2 separate regions of the Homo sapiens genome follow, and region 2 is linked to region 1. The links come from fine-mapping of genetic effects on gene expression. A gene starts in region 1. The other region holds a variant in brackets. All regions are shown on one strand. Distances are from middle to middle. Region 1 holds the start of RNASET2 (ribonuclease T2). Region 2 overlaps RNASET2 (ribonuclease T2).

Region 1 (12,354 bases):
ATGCACATGGAAAAAGCCAGCAGCAACACAGGATATAAGTCAAGCAGACACTTCAGGATAAATCAAATTTTAGAAGGGAAGATTCCAAGTAAGAAGATCAAGTTGTCACACATTAGCTTTTGTAAATAATTGAGTCCTGTTGAATTTGTATAGAATTTACAGTTAAGATGGTATGAAAACTTAGTTGTACATTGGAACTAATTATGCAAGCTCTCAGTATAAAAGGAAAAAAGGGTTCAAGCGTGGTGGCTCACACCTATAATCCCAGCACTTTGGGAGGCAGAGGCAGGAGGATTGCTTGAGCTCAGGAGTTCAAGACCAGCCTGGGCAACATGGTGAAACCCTGTCTCTACAAAAATTAGCCAGGTGTGGTGGCATGAACCTGTAGTCCCAGCTACTTGGAAGGCGCTGAGGCAAGAGGATAGCTTAAGCCCAGGAGGTGGAAGATGCAGTGAGCCCAGATCACATCACTGCACTCCAACCTGGGCTACACAGCCAGACCCTGTCTCAAAAAAAAAAAAAAAGGATGAGCTGCAGGGTGAGAATTGGAGCTGGTAAAGCATTTTTTACCCTTGGGTGAAAAACCTTATTTTACATAGTCGGAACCTGAGGCTGGAAAGCTTAGCAACACCCAGGAAGATGAGACTATCAATATGCTTACAACAAAACTACCAAGACTCAGACGTTTGTAACAAACTCTCCATCTAAAACCAGGCAGAGTGATGTGACTGCAGGAGACCCCCTCCCACACAGATGCCCCCCTCCCCTATTCACGGAGAAAGTAATGGAGAAGCTAAAGAAAGTCAAAGAAGAAAGAAAAATCACCAAGGTCTCAAAACCAGTTAGAACTTGGGAAAATGCCCGCTGACCTATGAAGCCCTCGTGGTCTGAATCAACCATGTTCTCGCAAATCTTGCCTGCTCAAGTTTGTCCGATCATATCAGTTGCATGAATTATGGGCTGGGGTGGGGGATCCACATATGACAGCCTGTTTTATGCTAATGTTTACTTCCAGCCAGACATCATTCCAAGTTACATTCTGTACCTTAACTGATTTCTCCTGAAGCCAACTCTGTGAGGCTGACTGTTACTATTTCTACTTTACAGATGAGGAAACTGGGGCATAGAGAGCTCAAAGGTCCCACACCTGGGTGTGAACTAGCAGTTTCCACTCAGCCAGCAAGGGCCAGCATGCCACAGACTTCCCCAGTGAGAGGCTCTGAACCTCATGGCCAATAAATAAGGACATAAATGTAGCTCTTTTTCAGAAAATACACTTTCCGGAACACTGAAATATAATGCTACATTTTAATGTACATGATTAAAAATATATACCTAAGGTGTTTAAAAAGTAAAACCCTGGCCGGGTGCAGTGGCTCACGCCTGTAATCCCAGCACTTTGGGAGGCCGAGGCGGGCGGATCACCTGAGGTCAGAAGTTCGAGACCAGCCTGGCTATTAAAAATACAAAAATTAGCCAGGCGTGGTGGTGTGCATCTGTAATCCCACCTACTCAGAGGCTGAGGCAGGAGAATCGCTTGAACCCGGGAGGTGGAGGTTGCAGTGAGCTGAGGTCACGCCACTGTACTCCAGCCTGAGTGACAGAGTAAGACTGTCTAAAAAAAAATAAATAAGTAAAACCCACCTTTTCCACACCTACTATGTAAGTAAGAAATCCTATTAACCCGATCATTACCCAAATAGAAAGAAATAATATGGTATTCAAATATTGGTATCTTCCACAGAATTAAAGTTGGAGTTCTTTGCAGCACCGCCTGTTTACCCCTAATTAATTTGGGCGGCTGCCACACACACACACGCACACACGCACGCACACACGCACGCACACACGCGCACACACGCACGCACGCACACACACGCACACACGCACACACACACACGCGCACACACGACACACACGCACAGACGCGCACACACGACACACACGCACACACACGCACGCACGCACACGCACACGCACGCACACACACACGCACACACAAACGCACACGCACACACACACACGCGCACACACACACGCGCACACACACACACACGCGGAGGGCGAGCCAAGGGAAGGGATTCAGAACAGGATACTCAAAAAGAGGAAGAACCGTCGTTTCACCACCCGCCGCAGTGAAAGCTGAAATTAAGTGTCCCCTCCACGACTTCTTCGACCTCTGAGAGAACTTCGAGTGCAGGAACAGTGCTCCACCAAGCCTGCCACCTGCTTTGTCGCGTCCTAGGCTGGGAGCAGTCTGTGGGATGAGTTTCCAGTCCAGCTCCAGGCTGGAGTGTACCCAGGACCTCACCCTACCCCCTACTCCTTCCCAGGGGTCACCCCGGGGAGTGTTCAGGGCTCCCCAACCCACTTCTTCCCAGGAGTCACCCCAGAGCGTGCCCAGGGCTCCCCCCAACCCACTCCTTCCCAGAGGTCACCCCGGGGCGTGCTCAGGACTCCCCTCATCGCACTCCTTCCCAGAGGTCACTTCTGAGTGTGCTAAGGGCTCCCCCCAACCCACTCCCTCCAGGGGTCACCCCGAGGCGTGCTCAACTTCCCAACTTCTTCCCAGGGGTCACCCCGGAGCGTGCTCGGCTCCCCCCGCCCTCCCCAGTCGCTGCCCGGGGCTCAGCGACCGCCGACCCCGAGAGCTGCAGCCTTCACCCAGTGGAAAGCTCTAGGGCCCGGCTCCCACGCTCCCCACTTTACCTCGCAAGGTAACTCACCGCAGGCGCTTGTCCGCACCGCCCAGGCAAAGCAACGCCAGGCAGAGGCAGCCCAGCAGGGCCCCGCGCAGGGCTGCAGGGCGCATGGTGCCGACCTGCGGAGAGAACGCTGCCAGCTGCCGCTCCGGCTCCCACTTCCCACCTGCTGCCCGAGGAAGACTTCCGGGAGAAACGCTGTCTCCGAGCCCCCGCGCCGCCGCGCTCCCTCCGCTGCAGCAGCGGCCACCGGGTGCGCCCGGAGCCCTGGGACGGCCTAAACCAGTATCTCGCGGGCCCCGCGCCGGGCTCCGGGAATGGCCGCAGCAGCCCTGGCGACCCGGGCCCCTCGGAGCTCCCCTTCAGGATCGTGCACCAAGCGCGCACGTCCCGGGCTCTGCTTCGCGACCCACAGCGACCCCAGCTCCTCCACGCTGCAGCCGCCGTCCGCCCACGACCACGGTCAGTCGCGTTGCTCCCAGCCCAGGGCGCCCTGCGGGCCTGCACCGGAGCAGAGAGCCACGCCCCCAGGACGGCACGCCCCCGCCGGTGGACACGCCCCCCAGAACGGCACGTCCCCGCCCGGCGTTCACGCCCCGCCCCGTGGTTGGCTCAGAGAGGCCGAGGCAGGAGCAGCTCCGCGGGCCTTGAGGGCGTGTCAGGCGGCTGTGTTCCTTCGCCACGCAGGCGCCCCGCGCCTTTTCCCGCAGCTCTGCGCCACTCCCACACTCCCGGGTCCGAGCTAACCTAGACCACCCGTGAGGACCGCCCTCGGGGGGACCGCCCGTGTCTGCGCCATCCCCCGCCAGCAAGTGGGCGTGCGGGCCCCAGGGCCACTCTACTCTCCAGGGACAGCCCCCAGCCCGACCCGCGCACCCTGCAGGCCCGCGGTCCGCACGCAGCACCCGCTTTCAAAAACTGCGCCCTGCAAGCTGCCCGGGAGCTCCTGACTGCAGATGGTGCTTGGCCGCCCAGGCTCCCCGCAGCCTCCCGCCACCTCGGCGCTCCACTGCGCAGCCCGAGGGACGGCTCCAGAATTAGGAGGGGACCTACTCGGGTCACTCTCCTGGAAACCTCTCCAGTCTCCCGGTGCTAGGTGCTGGGAGCACCAACATTCCTAGAAGGGCCTGGCCCTCACCCAGCCCTGGGCCTCACCTGCCCCTCCCCGCGGGCCCCAGGAGCCCGGAAGTCATCTCTGTGGGGGCAGCAAAGAGCCGCCTCGGGGCGCGACCTGGGAAGTCATCTTGTGAGGGATCCCCTCCCAGAGGGACGGGCCACCCCCCACGGATGAAGGGGACTTCATGTCAGCCCCACCTTGGCGTAGCCAGGGCCAGTCCCATAGGCCCGGTCTCCTCCCCCAACACCCTGGCCTTCCCAGCCCTTCAGAGGCACGGGTTCCCCTGCACCCGCGGCCCCGCCCACGGGCTGTGCACCCGGCATTGTCTCTGCAGATGTTTCTCCTCTTTCCCTTCCCTGTCCGCACACCCACAGCTAGTTAAGGCTATTCCTATTTACACGTCGAGTAAACTGCGCCTTCCTCGGGGTCCTCTGCCACTGGTAACTGTCTAAATAGCAGGTGGGCCTGTAGCCTGCTCTCCCACAGGCCTGGACCTTGCCTGCATGCATTACCATTCTTTGAAACAAAATATTTAAATGATTAATCTGTTTTTCCCACTAGACTGCAAGGCAAGGCCCATGTCTATTTTGCCCACCTTGAGTCCCTGCCACTGAGCACAGTGGATGGGGGACAGTCGGTGCTCAATAAAATGCCACCTGTGGAACAGATGGGGGGGGAAAATGGCTGACACCTCCTTAGCTCCTCCAGGACCTCCTACAGGTCATGGTGTTATTCTCGTTCTCCTTTTCCCTAACGACTTATTTGTTTCTTTCCGGCTCCTTTCATTCCTTCCTCTCAAGAATATAGGCACACGCCACAGTTCTTTTTCTCTTTTCTTTTAAGCTAAAAAAATAATTTTCTTAAAACAAAAGTGCTTCCCAGAATCCTCATTTTCCTTTAAATCACAGTCCGGTGTGTTTAAACAGCCCCTTGTCAAGGAGGGCTGTTGTGACCACTGCCAAATATAAAGCAAATCTGGACTCGGGGAGGAGTGGTGTTATGAGGACCATTATTGCAGGGGCCTGGGGGCCTTTTGTCCCTACTAAAAATACAAAAATTTGCTGGGCGGGGGTGGCACGCGACTGTAATCCTGTGGCAGGAGGAGCGGCAGACAAAACCTCTCAGACACCGAGCTATAGAAGGAAGGGCTTTATTCAGCTGGGAGCATCGGCAAGCTACTGCCTTAAAATCCGAGCTCCCCGAATGCACAATTTCTGTCCCTTTTAAGGGCTCACAACATTAAAGATTTCACATGAAAGGGTCGTGATTGATTTGAGCAAGCAAGGGGTACGTGACGGGCTGCATGCACTGGTGGTCAGAGAGAAACAGAACAGGGCAGGGAGTTTCACAATGTTCTTCTATACAATGTCTGGAATCTATGAATAACATCGGTCTCTAAGTCATGAGTTGATTTTTAACTACTAGGTTTAGGCCAGGCAGGCCCAGGTCCGGTTTTGGGCCTGGCGCCGGGCTGCCTGTCTTTGATTTCACTTCCTTGTTTTTTTCTTAAAACAGGTACTGAGTATAAAACAATATAAAACAATATGAGAGGGTCTCTCTCTTCCCTCAATCCCAGCTACTCTGGAGGCTGAGGCAGGAGAATCGCTTGAACCCAGGAGGCAGAGGTTGCAGTGAGCCGAGATCGCGCCACTGCACTCCAGCCTGGGCGACAGAGTGAGACTCGGTCAACAACAACAACAAAAAGAATGAATGAAAGAAAGAAGAAAGAGAGAAAAAGAAAGAGAGAGAAAGAATGAACTGGGAATGGAGAAGTGGGATGAGAACCTGCCTTCATAGGACATTAGATCAGAGAAGGTTGACCCCGTGGCCAGCCTGTTCTCAGGGGGGACTGACTCAGGCTAAGATGAGGCCAAAAGTCCTCAGCCTCGGGGGAAGAGAGGAGCCTCACCAAGTTTGCTTAACAAGTGTGTTATTTCTATTGACTGGCTCATCATTGATGAGGTGAAGAATGGGAATTGGAGGATCTGTGTCTGGCTTTGTCCTAGGTAATGGGTAGGGGGTGGAGTGAGGGGAGCATCCGTCACTTTTCCTTTTTTTTTTTTTTTTTTTGGAGACAGCGCCCAGCTGCATCACTTCTATCACTCTTACCTATGTTATGTGGGGAAGAAGGGGGTCTCTCGCAGCAAGCCACTTTCCACAACTCACAGAGAGGAGATTTTTATCAGATAAATTCAGCAGCGTCCTACCCAGCCTGAAGAAGCCACCCAGTCATTTCCTGTTGCACTTCCTTGTTTATTTTCGACACAGTTCTCCCCACCCCTGAGAATTCTTGTCACTTCCTCCTGTACTGCCCACTTCTACTCCCCCACCCCCACATCGGAAGCTAATGAGGAGCTTCAGGCCCCTTGCTGGCATGGGCCCCACCAAGACCCCATATCTCATTCCGTATTCACAATTTTACCTTCTTGTTCTTAAAGAAGGACATCCAAATGGAAAAGCTCTCAACCCCCCAAAACTTGGATGTGAACCTGGAGCATCTGTCATCTGTCTTGTTCACTACTTGTCCACCTACCAGGATCCTAAACGGAACCCTACGTAGGGAAGAGGCAGTGGCTGTAAAGGCTGGATTTGGGTCTGGAAGCCGCCCAGCTTTACGAAAACAAAGAGGGCTCCAGCATCAAGCAGGTGGGCAGGGGCCAGAGTGGGAATTACATTGACTCACACAACATAGTGTAAAAGGGTACAAACTATGAGGTTTAAAAGATGCTGCTGGCTTGTATAGAAACATGTCCTTAGGAGAGGGGAGGGGGACAGGATGGCAACAGCCATGTCTATGAACAGACATCCTTAAATCCTTGTTAATTCTGAAGAGACCAAGATACTTTCACCACACAACCTCTTCTTGGCATTAGCTCCAGGTTTCCTGTTTCCATGCCAGCTTTTGCTGGGTTATGCTACAATAATACACCGCCCCCAAATCTCAGTGTCTCACTTAAACGGAAGTTGATCATTTATCATTCATTTGCCCATATTCCATGCTGGCTATGCGTCAGATGCCACTGTGGTCCACGGTATTTTTCACTCTGGAACCCAGGCGGTAGGAACAGCCCATATCTGGTGCTGGCCATTCCAATGGCAGAGCAGTGGCACAACTACACAGTTTAGGATTCTCATGCTCTAAAGAGCTTTGTCACACTTGAAAGAATCTCACCTTAAAAACTCCTTTCCATCCTGAATTACTTATTTGCTGAGAAAGTGAGGCCAGCTGCTGGGTGTTTCCCTGCCCTTTCTCTTCTTTTTCTTTTTCTTTTTTTTTTTTTGAGACAGAGTCTCACTCTGTCAGCCAGGCTGGAGTGCAGTCAGTGGCACAATCTCGGCTCACAGCAACCTCCGTCTCCCAGGCTCAAACAATTCTCCTGCCCTAGCCTCCCGAGTAGCTGGGATTACAGGCGTGTGCCACCACGTCCGGCTAATTTTTGTGTTTTTAGTAGAGACGGAGTTTGACCATGTTGGTCAGGGTGTCCCAGCACCTCTGGCCTTGCCATGCCAGCCTGGCCACTGTGGTACACATTTTGTGGAACTCTTTTATTCTGAGCTGTGGCCATGACAAAAGGAGGACAGGAGAGAAACAGAAAAGACCAGTCATGTGTTTCTCACAATATAATTTGTTCTTCAAGTGTGACTTAACTGATGGAACCAGAGGGAAAAAACTTTCTGGAACTAGACAATAAGAATAAATCAGATCAAATAGCATGCTATTATGAAATGTGAAGCAAAGCAATATATTACATTTAATCATGGATGTCAAATTTTCAAAGCATATTTACTCTGAAAAAGGAAAAGAAAAAAACCCATGAGCTTACACACACACTCACATGCACACACATACACACACATGCACACACATACTCCTATACACGTGGATATTAGGCTGCTTACTTGAGCTGTCTTACAATTATTTATCTTAAAAAGATAAGCAAGGCATTTTAGACTTCTGAGATTTTACTACATAACTGAGCTGCTTTACTTTAGATAAGCCCTTCTGCATTACAAATAATAGTTTAATATTACATTAACAGTTAATTTTGGCTGGGCTCGGTGGCTCACACCTGTAATCCCAGCACTTTGGGAGGCTGAGGCAGGCTGATCACCTGAGGTCAGGAGGTCAAGACCAGCCCTACCAACATGGTTAAACCCAGTCTCTACTAAAAATAAAAAAAAAAATTAGCCAGGCGTGGTGCCAGGTGCCTGTAATCCCACCTACTTGGGAGGCTGAGGCAGGAGAATCGCTTAAACCCAGGAGGCGGAGGTTGCAGTGAGCCGAGATGGCGCCATTGCACTCCAGCCTGGACTCCCTCTCAAAACAACAACAACAACAATTTAATAGATATTTAATAAGTATTTTTTAAAAAAATAATTTCAACTTTTATTTTAAATGTGGGGGTACATGTGCAGGTTGGTTACACGGGTATACTGCGTGATGCTGAGATTGGGGGTATGTTCATCCTGTCACCTGGGTAGTGAGCCTAGTATCGTATAGTTAGTTTTTCAACTCTTGCTCTGCTCCCTACCTCCCTTCTGTAATAGTCCCCACTGTCTACTGTTGCCATCTTGTCATCCATGGGTAACCAGGGTTTAGCTCCCACTTACTTATTTGTTTATTTTTTGACATTGGAGTCTTGCTCTGTCGCCCAGGCTGGAGTACAGTGGCCTGATCTCCGCTCACTGCAACCTCCGCCTCCTGGATTCAAACAATTCTCCTGTCATATCCTCCTGAGTAAACTGAGATTACAGGCGAGGGCCACCATGCCTAGCTAATTTTTTTTTTTTTTTTTTTTTTTGAGACGGAGTCTCGTTCTGTTGCCCAGGCTGGAGTGCAGTGGTGCGATCTCGGCTCACTGCAAGCTCCGCCTCCCGGGTTCACGCCATTCTCCTGCCTCAGCCTCCCGAGTAGCTGGGACTACAGGCACCTGCCACCATGCCCAGCTAATTTTTTGTATTTTTAGTAGAGACAGGGTTTCACCGTGTTAGCCAGGATGGCCTCGATCTCCTGACTTCGTGATCCTCCCGCCTCGGCCTCCCAAAGTGCTGGGATTACAGGTGTGAAATACCATGCCCGGCTGCCTAGCTAATTTTTGTATTTTTAGTAGAGATGGGGTTTCACCATATTGGTCAGGCTGGTCTCAAACTCCTGACCTCAAGTGATCCACCTGCCTTGGCCTCCCAAAGTGCTGGGATTACAGGCGTGAGCCACCGTGCCCAGCCTAGCTCCCACTTTTAAGTGAGAACATGTGGTATGGTATTTGGTTTTCTGTTCTTGCATTAATTTGCTTAGAATAATCCAGCTGCATCCGTGTTGCTGCAAAGGACATGATTTCATTCTTTCATTATGGCTGTGTAGTATTCTATGGTATATACATACCACACTTTCTTTGTCCAGCCTACCATGGATGGGCACCTAAGTTGATTCCATGTCTTTGCTATTGTGAATAGCGCTGTGATGAACGTGAGAGTACATGTGTCTTTTTGGTAGAATGATTTGTTTTCTTTTGGATAGATGGCCAGTAATGGGATTTTTCCTGGGTGAAATGGTAGTTTTTTTTGTTGTTTGTTTGTTTTGAGATGAAGTCTTGCTCTGTCGCCCAGTCTGGAGTGCAACGGCATGATCTCGGCTCACTGCAACCTCCGCCTCCCAGGTTGAAGCGATTCTCATGCCTCAGCCTCCCGAGTAGCTGGGATTACAGGCACCCGCCACCATGCCCGGCTAATTTTTGTATTTTTTAGTAGAGATGGGGTTTCACCATGTTGGTCAGGCTGGTCTCGAACTGCTGACCTCAGGTGATCCACCCGCCTCAGCCTCCCAAAGTGCTGGGATTACAGGCGTGAGTCACCGCGCCTGACCATGGTAGTTCTTTTTAAAATTCATTGAGAAGTCTCCAAACTGCTTTCCACGGTAGCTGAACTAATTTACATTCCCACCAACAGTGTAGAAATGTTCCTTTTTCTCCACAGCCTTGCCAACATCTGTTGTTTTTTGAGTTGTTTTTTTTTTTTTAAACAGGGTCTCACTTTGTCACCCAGGCTGCAGTGTAATGTCGTGAACATTGCTCACTGTAGCCTTGACCTCCTGTACTCAAGTAATTATCCTACCTCGGCCTCCCGAGTAGCTGGAACCACAGGTACACACCACAGCGCCTGGCTAATTTTTTAAAATTTTTTGTAGGCTGGGCGAGGTGGCTCATGCCTGTAATCCCAGCACTTTGGGAGGCCGAGGCGGGCAGATCACCTGAGTTTGGGAGTTCGAGACCAGCCTGACCAACCTGGAGAAAGCCCATCTCTACTAAAAATACAAAATTAGCTGGGCATGGTGGTGTGTGCCTGTAATCCCAGCTACTTGGGAGGCTGATTCAGGAGAATCGCTTGAACCCGGGAGGCGGAGGTTGTGGTGAGCCTAGATCATGCCACTGCACTCCAGCCTGGGCAACAAGAGCGAAACTCCATCTCAAAAAAAAACAAAAGTTTTTTTGTATAGAGATGAAGGCCTCACCATGTTGCCATAGCTGGGGTTTTTGACTTTTTAATAATAGCCATTCTGGTTGGTGTTCTGGTTTTGATTTGCATTTCCCTAACAATCACTGATATTGAGCATTTTTTCATATGTTTGTTGGCTGTTTGTATCTCTTCTTTTGAGAAGTGTCTATTCATGTCTTTTGCCCACTTTTTAATGAGATTATTTGGTTTTTGTTTGTTAAATTATTTAATTTTATGGTAGATCCTGGATATTAGACCTTTGCCAGAGGCAGAGTTTGCAAATATTTTCTCCCATTCTGTAGATTGTTCACTCTGTTGATAGTTTCTTTTGCTGTGCAGAAGCTCTTTAGTTTAATTAGATCTCACTTATCAACTTTCATTTTTGCTGCAATTGCTTTTGAGGACTTGGTCATAAATTCTTTCCAAAGGTCATTGTCCAGAATGGTGAGTCCTGGGTTTTCTTCCAGGATTCTTATAGTATGAGGTCTTTTAAATCCTTAAACCATCTTGAGTTAACTTTTGGTGAAAGATAGGAGTCTAGTTTCATTCTTCTGCATATGGTTAGCCAGCTATCCCAGCACTATTTTTCGAATAGGGAGTCCTTTTCCTATTGCTTATTTTTGTCAACTTTGTGGAAGATCAGATGACTGTAAGTATGTGGTATGCTGCTTCATTTCTGGGTTCTCTACTCTGTTCCATTGGTCTGTGTGTCTATTTTTGTACCAGTACCATGCTGTTTTGTTTACTGTAGTCTTTTTTTTTTCTTTTGAGATGAAATCTTACTCTGTGGCCCAGGCTGGAGTGCAGTGGTGCAATCTTGGTTCACTGCAACCTCCGCCTCCTGCCTCAGCCTCCTGAAGCTGAGGATTCTCCTGCCTCAGCCTCCTGAGTAACTGGGACTACAGGTGCGTGCCACCACACCTGGCTGATTTTTTATATTTTTGGTAGAGACGGAGTTTCACCATGTTGGCCAGATGGTCTAGATCTCTTGACCTCGTGATCCGCCCAAGTCAGCCTCCCAAAGTGCTGGGATTACAGGCATGAGCCACCGAGCCCAGCCTACTGTAGACTTATAGTATTGTTTGAAGTTGGATAGTATGATATATCTAGCTTTGTTCTTTTTGCTTAGGATTGCTTTAGCTACTCAGGCTCCTTTAGGTTCCATATGAATTTTAGGATAGTTTTTTTCTAATTCTGTGAAAAAATGATGTTGGCAGTTTGATAAGAATAGCATTAAGTCTATAGATTACTTTGGGCAGTATGACCATTTTAACAATATTGATTCTTCCAATCCATGAGCATCAAATGCTTTACTCTTTGTGTCATCTATGATTCCTTTTTTTTTTTTTTTTTTGAGATGGAGTCTCGCTCTGTCACCAGGCTGGAGTGCAGTGGTGCAATCTCAGCTCACTGCAACCTCTGCCTCCCAGGTTCAAGCGATTCTCCTGCATTAGCCTTCTGAATAGCTGGGACTACATGTGTGCACCACCATGCCCAGCTAATTTTTGCATTTTTAGTAGAGTCAGGATTTCACCATGTTGGCCAGGATGGTATCGATCTCTTGACCTCGTGATCTGCCCATCTTGGCCTCCCAAAGTGCTGGGATTACAGGAATGAGCCATCACGCCCAGTCTCATCTATGATTTCTTTCAGCAGAGTTTTACAGTTTGCCCTGTAGAGATCTTTCACCTCCTTGGTTAGATGTATTCCTGGATATTTTATTGTTTTTGTGGCCATCATAAATGGAATTGCTTTTTTTTTTTTTTTTTTTTTGAGATGGAGTCATGTTCTTGTTGCCCAGGCTGGAGTGCAGTGGTGCGATCTTGGCTCACTGCAACCTCTGCCTCCCAAGTTCAAGCAATTATCCTGCCTCAGCCTCCTGAGTAGCTGGGATTACAGGCGCCCACCACGATGCCTGGCTAATTTTTGTACTTTTTAGTAGAGATGGGGTTTCACCATGTTGACCAGGCCAGTCTCGAACTCCTGACCTCAGGTGATCCGCCCGCCTCGGCCTCCCAAAGGGCTGGGATTACAGGTGTGAGC
Region 2 (12,354 bases), 26 kb before region 1:
CAAAACAAATCAGATCTTGTCCCTCTCACAGGCATCAAAACACAAATCATCAGTTCCCGACAGAAACAAATCCTGCCCTGCCAAGCCAACAGAAAAACACTGGAGACAGAAATGAGCTCAGAGAAGGGCCGAGGGACAATGACAAGGTGGGGACCCTGGACCCTTGGGCTCCGCTAGCCTTCCCCACAGCTTGCAGAAGAGGGCTCAGCTCCTCCATTACAGAAGAGACAAAATACAGGGACTGCTTCCATCAAATCCCCCATCATCTCACTCTGTCTGTCTGCAGAAGCTGTCAGGCCTGGCTGGGTGCTGCCTGTCTCAGGCTCTTACTGCAGAGCTTGTTTCCAGAGGGCCAGAGGCCGTCCTGTGTCTCCTTTAATGCCTGCGGGGGACGCAGAGGCCACTGAGTCTAGGATCAGGACTGCGACACCTACTTTCTCACCGTCCCATCTGCCTGGTAAACCTTTGTCTCTCTCTGAACATTCTGCATTTCAGACTGTCTTGTAGACACCATGAAGTGAGGTTTTGGTTTGAGCCAATTTGAAAATCTCTTCTTTAAATGGGCGAGTAAAGCCGAATATTCACAGGCATTGATACAGCTGTTTTTTTTTTTTTTGTAAATTATGCTGACAATATGGTTATTCTAAGGATTAAATATTTCACGTGTTGAACACAATGCCTGGCACATAGTAAGTTCTATTTTAAATGTATATTGAATAAAACATAAATAGGACGTTAATGTGATTAAGACAAACAGAGAAAAGGATTTAAAGAGAGAAGAGGCCAGGAGACGCGGGAGAAGACAATGCTAACAGGTTGTCTTAACAACACATGGAAAGCTCCTCACTGCACAGCCCCCAGATGCCTCACTCCACGAGTGAAATCCCTGCACGGCAGGCCGAGAGCGTGGGTGCAGCAGTCTGCCTGACGTGAGAGCCATGTCATCACATATCTAGAAGGTAAGGGTACCTCCGGTTCTGGAACACACAATGTAGGCACATTTCGCTGGGGGCTCCATGTACATTTCTAAATAGATACCAGTGCAGGGACCTGGCTACCCTCTGATAAGAAGGAAGTGAGGCCTGACAGAAACTGACCTTCCAGTAACCTGGAAGAGACTGCTCTGACGGAGACAGGAGATGGCTGCTCTGTGAATACACCCAAATCTCCTAGGGCAGGAGGGGCAAAGTCACCGTTCTAGGACACACCTGTGACCACACCAGGCCTCCAACAACGGAGCAGCTGGCTAAGGAACGATGTCCTGGGGCTCTGGTCACATGGAACAGACCCAGTCTGAGCTAGAGACACCCCCCAGGCCCACCAGGCATCAGCGTGGGCTCCTGCCATGCGTGGAGCTCTTCGTCTTGACAGGGTCCCTGCGCCAAGAAGGCAACAGGCTCCGAGGGGAAAACTCGAGCAAGAGAGTCCCCTGAATCGGTGCCATCTGTCTAAATTCCAAGTATGCCTGCCTGATCTACCAGGGCACTGAAGAGTTTAATAGAGAAAAAAAAAAACAATCTGTGAGCTTTATCCCAAGCACAAAACAGCCACTCAGGCGTGGGAGAGCTCCTTTCTCCCCGTGTACGCCACATGCACTCACTCTACAGGGACCACAACATCCAATTCACAGGCATGGAGGGGAAACAGCAAAATAAACAGACTTCACTTTGGAGTTGTTTTTTAGAAAGCTGCAGTTTGTGAATTTCTCTTGCTTTTTAAAACAGAATATTTCCAAAACTTGGGCATCAATGCTTGGTCTTTTTAGGTGGGGGATAGAAGACTGGGCCATCTTCACAGACTCTCAGACCCCGGCTCTCGGCGGCCCCATTTGCCAGCCAGACTTCCTGCTTGGGGGACGGCTGCTCCCCCGGCTCGGTGCAGTTTTGCAGCTGCTGGTCTTGCTTAGTGAGGCACAGTTCTATCTGACCAATTGTCTGTACTTCCTCATCCTAAAAGTAAACAATGAAAGACGCTTTAGAATTCAGATCTTGGATTATCATCAAGGTCTTAAGATCATGAACTTTTAGAACTTTTAGAAGATAACAAAAGCAGAGGCTCCACACCACAGGTTCTAGGTTCCAAGAACGGACCCCTTCATTGAGCAGAAGGCTGCTGTGCACTAAATTGGAAGGAGTGGCCCCAGGTGACTCGCCTGTGGGCAGTGGAGCTGGGCTTGGGGGTTGGATCCCCTGGTCACCACCAGAGGCCAGCCTGGTGCCCTGGTGAAAAGCCTCTGCTTTTATGTTAGAGAAAATTAACAAAGTTACACACAGATACAACAGCACTCAACATATCTATCAAGATATTAGGAGAAGAAATGGCTTTTGTAGGCCAAAAGGGCAACAGTACCCTATTGCTAAAAGAACAGGTATATTCTTGTTAAAGATAAGCAAGAAGACAAACCCTGTCCTAGCATGCTGTCAAGAAACCATGCTTGCTCACACACAGCACATGCTCACACAGACACACATGCATGCTCACATACACAGATGTGCAGGCCTGTGCACACATGCAGAACATGCCCATATGTGCACACATACACACAGTACATGAACATGTTCATATGCACATTCACACAGAGGCACAGGCCCATGCACACACACAGCACATACCCACATGCATGTACACACACACACACACGCACATGCCCACACAGCACGTTCACATGCATGCACACATTCACACATGCACACACATGCCCACATGCATGTTCACACAGAGAACATGCACACACATGCACACACACAGCACATGCACACATGCATGTACATGCACACACAGCACATGCCCACATAATGTACACACTTGCACACACAGCACATGCGCACATGTATACTCATGCGCATACAGCACATGCACACATGCATGTACATGCACACACAGCACATGCCCACATAATGTACACACATGCACACACAGGACATGCACACACATGCACACATAGCACATGCCCACATGCATGTACACACACATGCACACATAGCACATGCCCACATGCATGTACACACACATGCACACACAGCACATGCACACATGCATGTACACACACACATGCACACACACACCACATGCCCACATATACAGACACAAATGCACAAATACAAGTCTGCCCCAGGGAACTGCATGGTGAAGACAAGGCCATCAGAAAAGTAGAACCTGTCTTCTTGAGAAAAAAAGGAAGACAAAACATAACTGTCTAACCTGGCTTGGTGGAAGGCACTGGATTTTGGGTATCACTCCATATACTCTGGCAAGGGCATCTTTAAAATCTGCAACCTGATTTTAAATACAAGTGTATTAGAAATTAAACTTCAACAGAAAAGATCTGACAGTTCTGGACTATCCTGAGCGCAACAGTGGCAGGGTCCTGGTCTCCCTTGGCTGGCAGGGACAGGACCCAGCACAGGTGTGAGAATGATGCCCCCACCTCCACCAGCGAAGCAGAGGATGCTGTCAACCTGGGCTTCATCCCCAGACCACAAGCCGCTCGCTGCGGCTCTGTTTTCCTCTCTGCTCCTGTTTCTCTGGAGAGCAGAGCTCTCCTCCTCCCAGTGTCTTTCTGGGCCCCGAGCTGTCTCACCTGAAACGCCACCTGCCACAGCCACCCTCATCCACCAACAACTACTCTGCCTTTCGCGGCCCATAAAGCTTTCTCAGCCCTGTCCACTCTGAAGTATCTCTCTCTCCCGACCCCCTCCCCACGGTGGACACATTCTCCTTCACAGAAGAAAGGCCCTGGGACCCCTCAGCTACCGGTCCCGAAACTGCAAACCTAGACCCCCCTGTGCTCCAACCTCCTCTTGGATGAGGGGCCTCCTCCTCGCTCTACTGAGGGAGTCCTCCCCCACTGCTTCTGCCTCGTGCCTTCTGACTCAAACCTCCTAGGAGGACACCTGCATCCTCTCAGCCTCGTACTCTGGCTTTGGGGGGCACCAAGCTGGGGTCACCAGCTCCAGCAGATGCCTTTTGCCCCTTGCCTCAGACACTGTCCACTCCTTCCACGAAGCTCTCCTGTGGGCCTCCTGAGCACCTGCTCCACTGACCGCCTGGCTGCCGGCTGCCATTCCTGCCCCATCTCCTTGGCCTCCTTCTTCTCCTTCACTTATGGCGAGTTTTCACTGCCTTCCATTGGAAGCTATCTTTTCCACCCCATGGCTTCCCTCCCATCCAGACCTCTCTTCCTGGACTCTGCAGAGAGCTCCAATTCGAACTGTCCATGCAGGGTCTGATCATCCTCCCCTCTTGCCAAGCTTCTGACACCAGCAAATGTCACTCCTATGGAGGCCTGAGGCAGGACCTCTGCCTCTCCCATCCCCCTGTCCCAAACGGCCAAGTCCAAGCTCCCCACACTATCCCTTCCTCTCCAGCTGCATAGCCATAGGCCCAGATTCCCCCAGCATGTGACCTACTCGGAGGGTCTCTGTGCCTAGCCTCTCCCCAGTACCACGGGGACAGCAACAAGCAAACACCCCGGCCTACTCAGAGCTCAGCGCTGCTGGAGGATGAGGTCCTCATGTCTATGGCTCCCACCCGGCCCCTTCCCAACCCTCCTGCTCTGCCCCTGAGCCCCCTCAAGAAGCAACTGGTCCCATATCTCCCAGCCCCCAGCCCCCAGCTCTGCTCCACTGAACCACTCCCCTCAGGGCCTGGGCAGGCTGCAGGCCTCCATCTCAGCAACGCATTTCCCAGGAAATGTCTGGGTCGGCAGCTCTCCTGGGTGCTCCCGCAGCCCTGATTTCCCCATAAAACAGATGAGTGGATACGTGGCTGGATGCTGGATGCAAAAGCAACAAATTTCTCCTGATGATAAATCAAACTCCTTTCAAAGGACAGGACTCCGAGTATCCACCGTGCTGTTTCTGATGCCCAAACAAGCGCCGTTCGCACCTGGAAGCAGCTCAGCAAATGTGTGGCCCCTGTGGCTTTTGCCACCCCTGTAATCAGTTCCCTGAACACCGAGCTCTGGGCAAACATGGCAGGCACATGTCCCTCATCTATTCGCACATGAGTCCAGGTGAGGACGGTGAGGGCCCTGCAAGCGATCATCTTACGGCTTCCTGGGGTTGGGGTTGAGGGGGAGTCTGGAAAGGGCTGGTAGACTCCTTCCTCAAGTCCACTGCTCCCCACACTCTGGAAAAATGGCTGCACAGGTAAGCAGACACCATGAGAGCAAAGACACTGTTGCCAATTTATTTCACAAACAGTCAAGATACCAAAATAATTGTTCAACATCCAGCCATCGCCCCAGAACTACTAAGATCAGTGACTTTCAACCTTTTTCTAAATCCACAACCTGTGATAAATACGAAAACTATCTCAAAGAATCTGATACCTTTCTCTAAGGCAAGAGTCTGCAAACATTTTCCGTAAAGGTCCACGTCGTAAATATCCCGGGATTTGTGGATGACACATCGGTCCCTACTGCAGCTACACCATGGGAGCACAAGCATCCCCAGGTAACAAAGGAGTACAATTTTGTTTACAAAAACAGGCAACCAAGAGTTGAAAACAACTACTTTTTCTTTTTTTTTTAAAGAGACGTGATCTGGCTGTCGCCCAGACTGGAGTGCAGTGGGGCGACCATGGCTCACTGCAGCCTCAAATTCCTGGGCGCAGGCAATCCTCTGACCTTAGCTTCCTGAATAGCTGAGACCACAGACACATACTATCATGCTCAGCTACTTTTACTTCTTTCTAGAGGTCTCACTCTGCTGCCCAGGCTGGTCTCGAAATTCTAGCCACAAGCAATCCTCCAGCCTGAGCCTCCCAAGGTCCTGGGATTTATAGGCGTGAGTCACCACACCTGGCAAAAAGCAACTTTTTGTATATGCTTACCAGCTAATAACATCTTGTCATGCTTAAATATCTATAGTTTCTTTTATCATAAAACAAATCACAATTTTATCATGAAAACAAACCACAAACAAATATAAGACTACGTTATAAAAGTGAATGTGACTCTTGAAACTGCAGATTCCACCTGCTCTGCCGGACCCTGGAGCACACACTTCTCACAAAGGGAGCCATGAAATCTGTGCTTCCAAATCACTGGTCTAAGCAGCCTTCAGCTCCTACTCAACATGCGCAGGAAAATAAAATGCAAATAAAATCTGTTCACATGATAACATTTAAGTAGGAAGGGGGTTTGCACTGGGGCAATTTACAGCCCATTGACTCAGAGGCTGAAACGGCCCTACTGGAGGTCCCCGGGAGAGACACACGAGAAAAGAAGCAAAAGCAAGACTTACTTGGTAGTAATTGATGGATGGTTTTATCCCCAATTTTAGAAGCACACTAAAATTTAAATTTAAAAAAGTTAGCTGTATAATGAAGGTCCACTTTGCTTTCTTGTTCTTTTCAGGTATCATATTTCATGGTAAAAATTAAGACACTCTTAAAGGAAAGTGTTTTCTATGACTTTATGCAACAAATGTGTCAACATGGACTGCAAATACATGGTTCCCAGTCCCCGCCTTCCCCACCCCTTAGCACACACACAAACTGCTCCAGGCAGG[T/C]ACCCTTTCCAGTTCCTGACTCCTTCGGAGCATGGGAGCGCTGGGGCCACCACCGAGTGGAGCTGGCACACACATCACCACCCGTTTGCCACACCTGCTTTAAAAGACAGCAATTGAAATCGGATTCCAGGCTTATCCTGGTAAACTGCATTTGGACAAATCTTTAAACACAGTCATGCGCCACATTACGACATTCAGTCAGTGAAGGCCTGCATGTACGAGGGCGGTCCCATATGACCACATTTCTACTGTGCCTTTTCTATGTTGAGATATGTTTAGATACACAAATCCTTACCATTGTGTTACATACAGGTGCCTACAGTACTCAGTAGAGTCACACACTGTACAGGTTTGTAGCCTCGAAGCAACAGGCTATACCACAAAGCATATGTGTGTCGTGGGCTGTATCAGCTAAGTAAGTGCACTCCAAGATGTTCACATGACAATTTTATACCCCATCACCAAGCAATACATAACCGTATGGTAAGTCCCTACAGCTTTCAATCACCTCCTAAAGCACTTCTACACAGAATCCTACCAAACTACCATATATAGAATTCACTTATTAAAGTATAAAGGTACACTGTAAAATTCTGAATCATTGCAGAAGAATATCCTAGTTCCCCATCAAGCCTTGGTAGAAAATTCTAGATCACGATCACAGAGTGGACACAAAGACTTAGACATCCTCTGTGGGCAATAACTTATTGTCAGACTGTCTTGGCCACAGAGTTCCTGGAACAAGGACCGAGATGCCGGACCAGGGTCCTTTCAGCCCCATCATGGCCCGAACCCACAGGACCTCGCCTACCCTAGCTGTTGGTGTTGTATGAATAACAGGTTTCAGACTTTGCAGTTAAAAAAAAAAAATGTAAACTAGCTTATTAATTTTTTAATATTTATCCTAAGTTTCGATGATCCTATTTTTGATATATTGAGTTTAATAAAATATTTTTGAAATTAATTTAACCTGTTTCTTTTTGCTCCTTTTAATGATGCTACTAGAAAATTTAAAATGACATCTGTGGCTCGTGTTACACGTCTATTGGGTAGCATGCTCCTGACTTGGGTGATCAAGGGAATACGGCAAAGAGAGAAAGATGTGGGGAAATGCAGCACCTAACCCAGCATCATGCTTTCTGCTGAGTTGAGATGAGCTTGGCACGCATCCCAGGTCTTTATCTGTGGGTACTCTAGCACGTGCCATCAGCTCATCTGTGTCTATGGGAACCCTGACAACTTTGCTTCAAGATGATTTGTGGTTTTTCAGGTTTGCTGCCTTCATATTATGAAGTGAAGAAAAACAAGCTACAATTTTTTATTCTATTTTATTTTTTTGACACAGAGTCTTGCTCTGTGGCCCAGGCTGGACTGCAGTGGTGCGATCTCGACTCACTGCAACCTCCGCCTCCTGGTTTCAAGAGATTCTCCTGCCTCAGCCTCCTGAGTAGCTAGGATTACGTGCACCACCATGCCCAGCTAATTTTTGTATTTTTAGTAGAGACGGGGGTTTCACCATGTTGGCCAGGCTGTTCATGAACTCCTGACCTCATGATCCACCCGCCTTGGCCTCCCAAAGTGTTGGGATTACAGGCGTGAACCACTGTGCCCAGCCTGTTCCAGTTTATGATAATTTGAAAAGCCAACCTATGAGAAAAAGATAATTTGTGATACCAGTTTACAAGGAAAAATGAGGGGTCTTAAATTTTGACTTCTTAATTTAATTTTTAGATTAAAATGAAGGCACTAAGAATTATAGATTTCCCTTGGAGAAACTAAGAATATAATTTTCCTATAATTGTTCTTTATAGGTTTTAGCAAACATACTCTCAGTAGTGCTTTGCCCTGGCAGGCCCTCAGTGAACATTTACTGAATGAATGAATGAATGAATGAATGGAGGACGCACCATTCCCATCTACAGCAATGGCAGGGCAGCACTGGGCTCTGCTGAATCCCCACAGGAACTCCAGGACTTAGAGTTTTGCATGTGTCGTGTGTGTGTGTGTGTGTGTGTGTCTCAGTCTGTCTAGTGTCGCTATACAGGAATACCTGAGGCTGGGTAATTTATTTAAAAAAAGAGGTTTTTTTGGCTCAGGGGTCTGCAGGCTGTCCGAGAAGCATGGAACCAGATTCTGCTTCTGGCAAGGGCCTCAGGAAACTTCCGCTCATGGCAGAAGGCAAAGGGGAGCTGGTGTGTACAGAGATCACATGGCCAGAGAGGAAGCCAGGGGTTGGGGGCGGTGCCAGGCTCCTGTTAACAACCAGCTCTCTGGGGAACTGAGTGGGAACTCGCTCACCCCTGCAAGGGGGCATTAACCTACTCATGAGGGATCCTTCCCCGCAGCTCAAACACCTCCCACCTCCACACTGGTGATCAAATTTCAACATGAGATTTGGTGGGGATAAACCAACCACATCCAAACCATAGCAGGAAAGCTACTGAGTTTCAACGAGTGTAAGTAGGAGCCACTTAATAAACTATTTGTTGGATACAGAGATGAATTATTTAGATGATTGATTTTAAAATTTTCAGTAGTATCCATTTATCCTTTCTCTGTTTGATTAAATGAACTGGTTTATGGAGTCAGCCTGGAAAACACCAGCACTCTGCAGCAGGGTCAGGACTGTGAGACCCCTGTTTTGAAACAGAGGGCATCTTTCTTGTCATCTCCAAAGTGGGTCCTACCCTGCCAGTCTTTCAGCAATGTCAGACTTTCTTTTTAACTGCAAGTCTCCTGTGCTCCAGGAGCTACCTAAGACACTCTCTTGGTTAATCCTCATAATGACTTTTTTTTTTGAGACAGTTTTGCTCTTTTCGCACAGGCTGGAGTGCAATGGCACGATCTCAGCTCACTGCAACCTCCACCTCCTGGGTTCAAGCCATTCTCCTGCTTCAGCCTCCCGAGTAGCTGGAATTACAGGCATGCACCACCACACCTGGCTAATTTTTGTATTTTTAGTAGAGATGGGATTTCACCATGTTGGCCAAGCTGGTCTTGAACTCCTGACCTCTGGTGATGCACCCACCTCAGCCTCCCAAAGTGCTGGGATTACATGCATGAGCCACCACACATGGCCCATAATGATTTCTGAACAGCTAATTAGCTACATTTGTTAGGTGAGAAAATGTTTCCTAAAATATTGCTCTTACTGCAAGAAAGCAATGCTTCCTTTATTAAAAACCTAAGATTAAATTACATAGATCAAATTATATACACAAACTATATACAAATCAAAGTGTATAGGTCTGTGTACGTTTCTTAGTGTATATACCTGGTAGTGCAGATTTTAAGAGCTGGAAGAGACTTCAGGGTTGAGGGCAACCTATCCATTTATTTCACAGCATGGAAAAAAGAGCTAGAGGTTAGATACACAAATTGTACAACTAGTTAGTGTCAGAACCAGGATGAAAAGGCACACCTAATGCCACGCGCTCTGGGAGGTGATTTTTAAAGAAGTTTATTCACAGGGCATTCTTTGATGTAATCTTGATCCCCGCTAACCGTGCCAAGCCCCTCTTCTATCAGTGCCTGAGCTCTATCCCACCCAAGTTGCAGCTGTTAGACTGCGTTTCATCAGATGACACAGGAGACCATCTGTGTGAGACGATTTTGTACGTTGAGGAGGCAAAGCACATGTCTAGATAAGCAATGGAGGTTTATTCATCTTTTAAGCAGTTTTGATTCAGAAACCTTAAATACAGCTGATTAGCTAAGGCTCCTGGTATTATTCTGATTTGAAGGAGAATTGCTCTAAAACAAGCTGCGTGAATTCCAAAAGCAGCAACACAGAGGCTGTGCAATTGCCTGTCATGTTTTTCACGACTTCACTGGTTTATTATGACCTCTTATGATGAAGGTCAGTGAGAGCAGCTAAGACGCTGACACCCTGAAACGTCCCGACGGAGAGGTAAGGGCACACCCTGGCTCTCTAGCAACCAGATTCGGACAGTGAGTGGGCTCGGTGTGGCGCTCAGAAGGCACTTTGCTTTACAAGTCAACTGGCTCAAGTGGGACAACGTATTCCACTTCTCAAGAATAGAGGTGAGGGCAGGCAGGGACGATTTAGGCAGGTTGGGGTCATTTCTGGGGCTTAAAGAACCCTGGCCCACATCTCTTTCCTGCCTGCTTGTTCCAGGAGTTCTGCGGCAAAGACCTACAGACTTCCAGAGTTTCCGTCTTTCTAAGGAAACGACTTATTAATGCACTATCCTTTATCAGGAATCATGGCTGAGAACGGCACATGCTGGTTGGAGTCCTCGTTTTCCCTATGGCCGACTCTGATGATGAGATGGTGCCCAGATGGGCATCCCAATACTCTGCACCCACTCTGTGTGATCGTGATGTAGAATGATCTGGAAAGGCTTGGTAGGCTCAGAACATTCCTCAGGAATGATCCCAGTAGCCGAATAGTGCACATGCAGAAGCTGCTGGAGGGCAGTGAGGTCTACACCCACTCCCCTGGATCCAGCTGTCAGGCTTGGGCGACAGCAGAGATCCCCACTGGGAAGTGCAGCCGGGGGAAGGGCGCACCCACCTGTTGAGGTCCAGCTCCCTGTAGAGTTCCAGGCTTCTGCCAAAGTACTTCTTCTGGGAGTTGAGCGCATCCACCTGGGCGGCGCAGGTCCCATGCTTTTCCCACTCATGCTTCCTGTGAGGATTAGGAAAAATCTCCACTTAAAAGTAGTGAAACAGGCTGCGTGCAGTGGCTCATGCCTGTAATCCCAACACTTTGGGAGGCTGAAGGGGGTGGATCACCTGAGATCAGGAGTTTGAGACCAGCCTGACCAACATGGTGAAACTGTCTCTACTAAAAATACAAAAAAATTAGCCGAGTGTGGTGGCAGGTGCCTGAGATCCCAGCTACTCAGGAGGCTGAGGAGGAGAATCGCTTGAACCCGGGAGGCAGAGGTTGCAGTGAGCCAAGATCATGCCATTGCACTATAGCCTGGGCAAGAGACAAACTCCATCTCAAAAAAAAAGTAATGAAACTGATTCCCAATTAAAATGCTCAAGCATGTTTTCTCTCAGCACAGACTATTCCCATGTGGTAGGCATGTCATTTCTTTTACAAAGTAGGAAGGATAAAATTCCTTATTTGCAACATAGGCAATTATTTCAATCCCCCACGATTAAATAATCAGTTTCAGTTCACGTCTACAATTACAGCTTGCTCAATTAACAACAAATCAAAGCTGAGAAAAAAGAACATGCTGCTGCCCCAACCCCCACTGATTCACAAAGCAACGTGTGGTCTCCTGCAGTGAGTGGGTGCTTTGCAGTCAGGGAATTTCGCAGAGTGGCACAAACTGTCATTTCTAAGCAACCAGCCATGGAAAGGCAGGACAGCTAATTACCAGGAAACACCTCAGGCCCATTTTCCATTTCAGCTTCTACAAATTATAGTTTAAGCATCCATTCTACATAGAGGACAATAAGAACAACTGAATAGCCTATAACTAAAGGGCTGCACGTGAACAGCAATTTGTATTCCAGAAAAATGTGGTCACTGAGAATGATTCCTGATATTTTACTGCAGATTAAAGGTTTACAAAAATCTTTCACGTTCTTCGTTTGGTTCTCAAAACTCTGCAAGGCGGAAATATCACTGCTAGTTTACAGACAGGGAATGGAAGCCCAGAAGGGCCAGGGGACTTGCTGAAGGTCACTCAGAGCCTGCCCTTGAAGGCCACGCTCAAGTCCAAGGTCAGCGCCCTTCCCACTGCACTGGGCTGTCATCCAATCAACTGCTGACGAGATTGACAGCCACCTTCAGAATGACTGGCGTGTCATCAGATGTTTATCATCTTTAGCATGAAAAGACAAAATGGGAATCAGA

What was found.
Region 2: its variant is fine-mapped to the expression of RNASET2 in nucleus accumbens (GTEx, PIP above 0.99). The same link has a PIP of 0.9 or more in whole blood.

The regions. Positions count from the first base shown.
Region 1 is chr6:166,953,371-166,965,724 of GRCh38, forward strand. It overlaps RNASET2 (ribonuclease T2), which reads right to left and starts at 3,180. Exons shown (of 9, transcript NM_003730.6): 1 at 2,727-3,180. The coding sequence starts at 2,812. RefSeq lists silencers at 2,946-3,705, 3,746-3,845, 4,116-4,165, an enhancer at 5,130-5,249 and a cis regulatory region at 5,930-6,216.
Region 2 is chr6:166,927,843-166,940,196 of GRCh38, forward strand. RNASET2 (ribonuclease T2) reads right to left here. Exons shown (of 9, transcript NM_003730.6): 6 at 11,053-11,166; 7 at 6,249-6,294; 8 at 3,202-3,276; 9 at 1-1,949. The coding sequence ends at 1,746. Among named protein-coding and RNA genes, the nearest start is that of RNASET2, 23 kb to the right of the region's middle. The variant T/C (reference allele first, on the strand shown) is at 6,516.